2 linked regions of the Homo sapiens genome follow. The protein of the gene in region 1 interacts with the protein of each later gene in a biochemical or structural test. Each region holds a gene or a part of one and is shown on either strand. Other genes may lie near its edges.

Region 1 (3,854 bases):
GATGATTATCATTGGAGTAGTGATTAAGAGTGTGGGCTTTGTGGCTAGATGGTCTAGGTTTAAGTACTGGTGTGCCACTTACTAGCTAAATCACCTTAGTATCAGATTCTTCATCTTCAAAATTGGAGGATTAATAAATACCCTACCCCTTAGGGCCACTGTGAGGATTAATGAGGCAAAACCTGTAAGACATTTTAGCATGGTGCTTGGTACATAAATGCTCCATAAGTGTTGCCTGTTTTATAAACAATAACCTAGTTTCTTCTGTTTTGTGATTCTAATTTTGAATTCACATTTGCTAATTTGGAAACTTTTTTCTTAAGGAAATTGTTCCTTCTGTAGATAAATTTGCAGTGTTATAGTTGGTCTTATGTATAGATCCTTTGCTTTATTTCCAGGTTTCCCTACATGAAGACTAATGTTTTAATGAATGATAAGATAGTTAGGGCTCGGCATGGTGGTGGCCCATGCCTGTAATCCCAGCACTTTGGGAGGCTGAGGCAATGGATCACTTGAGGCCGGGAGTTCGAGACCAGCCCTGCCAACATGGCCAAACTCTGTTTCTACTAAAAGGTACAAAAATTAACTGGGCATGGTGGTACCTGCCTGTAATTCCAGCTACTTGGGAGGCTGAGGCACGAGAATCACTTGAGCCTGGGAGGCAGAGGTTGCAGTGAGCTCAGATCACACCACTGCACTCCACCCTGGGCAACAGAGTGAGAATCTGTCTCAAAAAATAAAAACTAAAAAAAAAAGGATAGAAACACAGAGATCATGGAGTTGATTTCTTTCATTATGAATTTGAACAAACTAAAGCCAAGGAAGTTCAAGTAACTTTCTCAAGGTTACATATCCTTGAAAAGAGCTACATCTAAAATCCAGTTCTTCTAAAACCCAGTCCAGTGTGCTCAGTTATTACATATAATGAAGTCCTTCACTTTTGCGCTTCCTTACCCCCTGTTATCTGGCAGCTGAGTACCTACCTACTCATTCGTCATGCAAGATATACCTTAAATTCTTATTTCTTTATGGTATTTTCTGCATCCTGCTTTTGTTGGACTTTGTATTTATGTTACAGCAATAATAAGATTTTTCCCTGCATATTTGCTTATATGTCTGTCTCCCCTAGCAGAGTCATGGTTTTGGTCTGGGAACTTACACATTTTTAAAAATCCGTATCATTTAGCACAGTTCTTGTCCCAGTGTAGGTACTCAATAAACAGGTAACCTGAAAGAGTTGTTGTAGTGAGAATGCTACCAGATGAATGGGTATTCTTTAAAGTATTTTCTTTTTTTGAATCTCTTTAAAAAAAAAATCCATGTATACTAAAATTTCAAGAGAGAAATACTTATTGTCAGAAATTACTGAATCTTTTCTCTAAGTCACGTAGCATTCCCAGAGGATTCTTCTTAAAGGAAGCAAATGTATCCTAGACCAAGTCTACAGGTATAGCCATTTTTATTTTATTTATTTTTTTGAGACAGGGTCTCATTCTGTCACTCGAGTGCAGTGGTGTGATCATGGCTCACTGCAGCCTTGACCTCTGGGCTCAAGTGATCCTCCCATCTCAGCCTTCTGAGTAGCTGGGACTACAGGTGCACTCCATCATGCCCAGCTAATTTTTATATTTCTTGTAGAAATGAGGTTTCACCGTGTTGCTCAGGCTGGTCTTGAACTCCTGGGCTGAAGCAGTCCTCCTGCCTCAGTTTCCCAAAGTGTTGAGATTATAGGCATGAGCTACCACACCTAGCCCGTCAGGAAGTGGAGGAGGGCGTTTTTATGTTACATGTCTTTCTAGTAATAAATTCTGTTCTATATTTCTTCTTTGTGTTGGCAGATGCAAATGAAACTGATGGAAATGAAAGATTTGGAAAATCATAATAGTCAGTTAAATTGGTGCAGTAGCCCACACAGCATTCTTGTAAACGGAGCTACAGATTATTGCAGCCTCAGCACCAGCAGCAGTGAAACAGCCAACCTTAATGAACATGTTGAAGGCCAGAGCAACCTAGAGTCTGAGCCCATACACCAGGAATCTCCAGTGAGTCTAATACTTTCATAACCTTCATAATCAACCTCCTTGTGCAGATCCAAGTTTCACTGACATTATATCTAATATAAATACATGGCCTTGCCTCATCTGAGGACAATTGAGATTTCCTTTTTAGAAGCAGAGAGTCCTAATCCAAACAATTGTACGTTTTAACTAGTATAAAAAGATAACTTTAGCTAATTTTTTTTTTTTTGGAGATGGAGTTTTGCTCTTGTTGCCCAGGCTGGAGTGCAGTGGTGCGATCTTGGCTTACTGCAACCTCCGTCTCCTGGGTTCAAGCAATTCTCCTGCCTCAGCCTCCTGAGTAGCTGGGATTACAGTCACGTGCCACCACACTCAGCTAATTTTTTGTATTTTTAGTAGAGATGGGGTTTCATCATGTTGGCCAGGCTGGTTTCGAACTCCTGACCTCAAGTGACCCATCTGCCTCGGCCTCCCAAAGTGCAGGGATTACAGGCGTGAGCCACCACGCCCAGCCAGCTAATTTATTTTTTGTAGAGCCTGTTTTTAAAATGGTGGTTCTATAGAGTAAAACTTTTTTTTTAAGTACCCTCACCAAAAGCTAAAATTATTTTTATTACGTAGTGTTAAGGACATTCATTTACCAATTATTTGACGAGTACCAACTATGTGCAAGAGTGCTGTATTACATAATATAAGAGCTACAGAGACAAGAGACCTCAGTCTTTCCTTCAAGCAGCCTACAGTGTAGTAGTGTAACACTGTGTTAAAGGGCTGTGCTAAAGGAAGCGCAGAATTTTCAGTTAGGACAGTTTGGAGGGGGTTCATAAAGATTTTGTTGGGGAAAGCTTTGCGAGTTTAGACAAGTGAGAAGTGGTTAAGCAAAGAAGAGGAGGATACATTCCTGCCAGAGAAAACAGTATTAGTATAGGTACAAGGTGGAAGAATACATGCAGCACAGAATCTTGAGAAGTTCTGAAGGATATCTTGTGATGGTGGAGAGGGTATTGGTAAGAGATGAGGCGCTTCTAGTAGGCATCTGCATTACCTCTGGTGATTGTCAAAGTATAAATGTGTATCCCTTTCCCCAAACTTGCTGAACTAGTTTCTGGGATAGAGCCAGATATGTATATTTTAAAAACACACTCTATGGGTGATTGTCATGTGCACCTGGATAAAAATGACCAATTTTAGGTCAGAAAGTGCCAGAAGATGAGAAATTTAGATTCATCTTAAAGCATTGGGGGATTTATCCTACTGCAATGAACAGCCATTGAAGAATTTTAAGCAAGAAGTGACGTGATTAACTTTTAGAAATGTGGAAAACGGATTAGAGAGTGAGACTGTACCCGTAGAAGGGATAATGAGAAGAATAGAAGTTTGAGAGGTATTAAAAGTGAAAAGTTAACAGACTCGATTTTATTTACACAGTGCAGTCATGTATGCATTATAAAATATTCTTTCAAGCGCAAAAGGCAGATTACTAGGTTATCCTGCAAATAGATAAGGGTGGTATAAAGTAGCTATTGCCCTGCTACTTTTTTTTTTTTTTTTGAGACGGAGTCTCGCTCTGTTGCCCAGGCTGGAGTGCAGTGGCGCAATCTCAGCTCACTGCAACCTCTGCCTCCTGGGTTCAAGCTATTCTCCTGCCTCAGCCTCCCGGGTTTAAGCTATTCTCCTGCCTCAGCCTCCCGAGTAGCTGGGACTACAGGCGTGTGCCACCACACCTGGCTAATTTTTTGCATTTTTAGTAGAGACGGGGTTTCACCGTGTTAGCCAGGAAGGTCTCGATCTCCTGACCTTGTGATCTGCCTGCCTCGGCCTCCCAAAGTGCTGGGA
Region 2 (3,500 bases), on another chromosome or scaffold:
TCTCATGGTACCCTTAACAGGGTATGGGGACTCCCCAAACCACAGTGAGAACTACTGCTCAGATAACAAAAAGCAAATTTGTCTAGCAGGCTGTCCAGTTTTCCTCAGAGTGCCCCCAGCAAAAATAATAATGAAAATAAAAAGCAAAATAATCACAGTAAGATACCATTTCACAGCCAGTAAGATGGCTATAATCACAAAGACAGTAATAAGTATTACCGAGAATGTGGTTATCGGAATCCTCATGCATTGCTAGTGGAAATGTAAAATGGTACAGACACCTTAGAAAATAATTTGGCAGCTCCTCATAAAGCTCAACATAGAGCTTTGACCCAGCAATTTCCACTCCAAGATCTACACCCAAGAAAAATGAAAACGTTATGTCCCCACAAAAACTTATACATGAGTGTTCAGAGGCATTAGTCACAATAGCCAGAAAGTAGAAACAACCCAATGTCCACCACGTGATAGAAAAATAAAATGTGGAATGCTGTTGGCAACACAATGGAATGTTATTCGGCAATAAAAAGGAAGTAAGTACCGGCACATGCTTCAACAGGGATGAACCTTGAAAACACTATGCTAAGTGAAAGCCAATCACAAAAGACCACATGATTCCACTTACAACAAACGCCCAGAACAAGCAAATCTATAGACAAAAAATAGATCAGTAGTTGCCTAAGGCTGGGGGGCCCAGGGAGAAACGAAGGGCAACTGCTAAAGGGTACAGCGTTTCTTTTTGAGGGTTCTAAACGTTCTAAAATTGACTACACGACCCTGTGAATGTATTACATCAATTACAGACTTTAAAATGGTGAACTGTATGGTAGGCAAATTACACTTCAATTACGCTCTTTCTTAAAAAAAGCTAAGCAATCTCTGTTAATCAGAATCATTAAATAACGAGTTTTTCAGCTGTCCAGTATTAGAACAAAGCAAATAAGAAAACAATGATCTCACAGACATTTTTTTTCTCAGATATCTTGCTATACTGATTCAATCCAACCTTCTGGATAAGATGTTGTCCAGCAGAAATATATATAAGCCACAAGTAATTTAAAAATTTTAAGCAGCCATACTGAAAAAAAAGTTTTTAATAAAAGGTCAAATTAATTTTGATATTTTACTTAACTCACGATCTGCAAAATACTATTTCAATACATAATATATCAAAAGTATTAAGATATTTATTTTGTTCATACCAAATTTTCAAAATCTGGTATAAATTTTACACTTAACACATCTCACTTTTTAAGTACTTAACCACATGTGGGTGATGGTATCAAAGTGGACAGTATAGTTCTAGATCCACACTATACAGTATAACGTTAAATCATGTGTGTGATGATGACCCTAAGGCAAGTTGCCTTATCAAAGAAAGGCTCAATTTGACTCAATACGTTTAAATTATGTCTAAGTATATTAATATTTTCCCAGAAGTTTGCACTGACAGAAGGCACTTTCTAAAACCAGAGTATATACTGCCTGAACATTTCAAGTAAATGTACTTCAAAATTTTACACATAACCTAACAGTCTATGAAATCCCAGAATAAGCTAATTAGAAGTTACACAGAAACTCCCCTCCATTATCTGCACTAATGTCTCACATATATAACTCTCCATTCTTCTAGATGTTATCTTGCTCGTGGATACTTGGAAATCCTCAAAGCTCTTTTCAATAGCTGATGATGAACAATTAACCAAAAAAAAAAAATCTCATACACAGGGACTTTGTGCCACTACACATTTATGCTTTTGTATCTATTTACTTACATACAGGTTGAGCATCCCCAATCCAAAAATATGAAATCTGAAATGCTCCAAAATCTGAAATTTTTTAACACCATGACATCACATGTGGAAAAATCCCATATGTAACACCTTTGCTTTCTGATGGTTCAATGTATACAGTTTGTTTCACTCGCAAAATTATTTAAAATATTGTATAAAATTACCTTTAGGCTCTGTGCATAAAATGTACATGAAATATAACTGAATTTCATGTTTATATTTAGGTGCCATCCCCAAGATATCTCATTATGTATATACAAATATTCCAAAATCCAAAAAAAAAGAAAATCCAAAGTCCCAAACACTTCTGGTCCCAAGCATTTCCCATAAGGGATACTCAAAACCTGTATTACAAAAATCTCTATTAATGACAGCACCTTGGAATGTACACAGTGCAGTTTATATTCTCACTACCTATTCTAGCAACCTGTAAGTAAAAATTTATGTTACTCAGTTGATTCTGAGTGCTCCGTGAATAATAAATTTCACTCTAAATTGGAAAAAAGCTTAAGCTTTATTAGTAACCTTGAACAAGTAACATTATTAAATACCAAATGTATATAGCACTGTAAAAAATTAAGGCAACCTGTTTCTGCCTGTTGGTACTCACGACCAGAAACCAATGGAAAAATAGGAAAATAAATTACCACCTTACAATTTACCCAAGAAGTTTAACGTAATTTCATCTAATCACTTATTACAGCATGTTCATATAAACAGAATTTTGGTATAATGTGTTAAGGAATCTACATTACATAGAAATACTTATTGAAAGAAATTTTAACTTATAGAAAACGGAATTTGTCTGATACAGAGCATAAGCCTTCAATATTATCCTCTGGAGGTCTTCGGCTTACCCTCTGACCCTCCAAAATTAGGTACAAATTTTAAAGACTAAATATTTCCCAATTTCTAACTGGACACTTTCAGTGGAATTTTAATGTCATTAAGTATTTTTAATGACAAATTTTCATTTGTAACAAACAGTTTCAATCAAACCCTTTAAAATTTTTAAATTATAAAATGGCATATCTTTTGTGCTTCAAGTAGATTTTACAAATAGGTCATTTGAAAACTGCTTTTCTTTTTCTTCCACATTTTCCTGTATCTGTTTCCCTTGCATATACAAAGCCCAACTTGTCTACAGGTTCTCTGGTGTGGTGATAAGCGTCAATTTTTATCACATTTTCTGCTTCAACATAAAACAATGATCAAGAATTTAAAAATAAACTACCATCAGAAAAGGCTACTTCAGAAAGACTTTAATTTTATCTATTAACAATTCGTACTGGGCCGGGTGCCCGGTGGTTCACACCTGTAATCCTAGCACTTTGGGAAGCCGAGGCAGGCGGATCACAAGATCAGGAGTTCGAGACCAGCCTGGCCAACATGGTGAAACCCTGTCTCTACTACAAATAGGAAAATTAGCCGGGTGTGGTGTGGCATGCGCCTGTAGTCTCAGCTACTAGGGAAGCTGGGGTGGGAGAATCCTTGAACCCGGGAAGGGGAGGTTGCAGTGAGCCGACACCATGCCATTGCACTCCAGCCTGGGGGGTGACAGAGACTCCATCTCAAAAAAAAAAAAAAAAAAAAAATCTCACTTTGGTTACAGCAGAGTAAAATAAAAGCGTTCACAGAATTTATAATTTTAACATCACAAAAAGCAAAAACATCCTCACAGCTATAACATCATATATTGACTGAAAG

Evidence for each region. The genes of interacting proteins can lie anywhere in the genome.
Region 2: the proteins of EPS15 (region 1) and UBQLN1 form a complex in vitro, tested with the Homo sapiens proteins (one study listed by BioGRID).

What each region holds. Positions count from the first base shown.
Region 1 is NC_000001.11:51,404,093-51,407,946, reverse strand, and holds part of EPS15 (epidermal growth factor receptor substrate 15), read left to right. Parts: intron 1-1,838; coding exon 1,839-2,042; intron 2,043-3,854. UniProt on the Homo sapiens protein: Involved in cell growth regulation. May be involved in the regulation of mitogenic signals and control of cell proliferation. Involved in the internalization of ligand-inducible receptors of the receptor tyrosine kinase (RTK) type, in particular EGFR.
Region 2 is NC_000009.12:83,701,459-83,704,958, forward strand, and holds part of UBQLN1 (ubiquilin-1), read right to left. Parts: intron 1-3,500. UniProt on the Homo sapiens protein: Plays an important role in the regulation of different protein degradation mechanisms and pathways including ubiquitin-proteasome system (UPS), autophagy and endoplasmic reticulum-associated protein degradation (ERAD) pathway.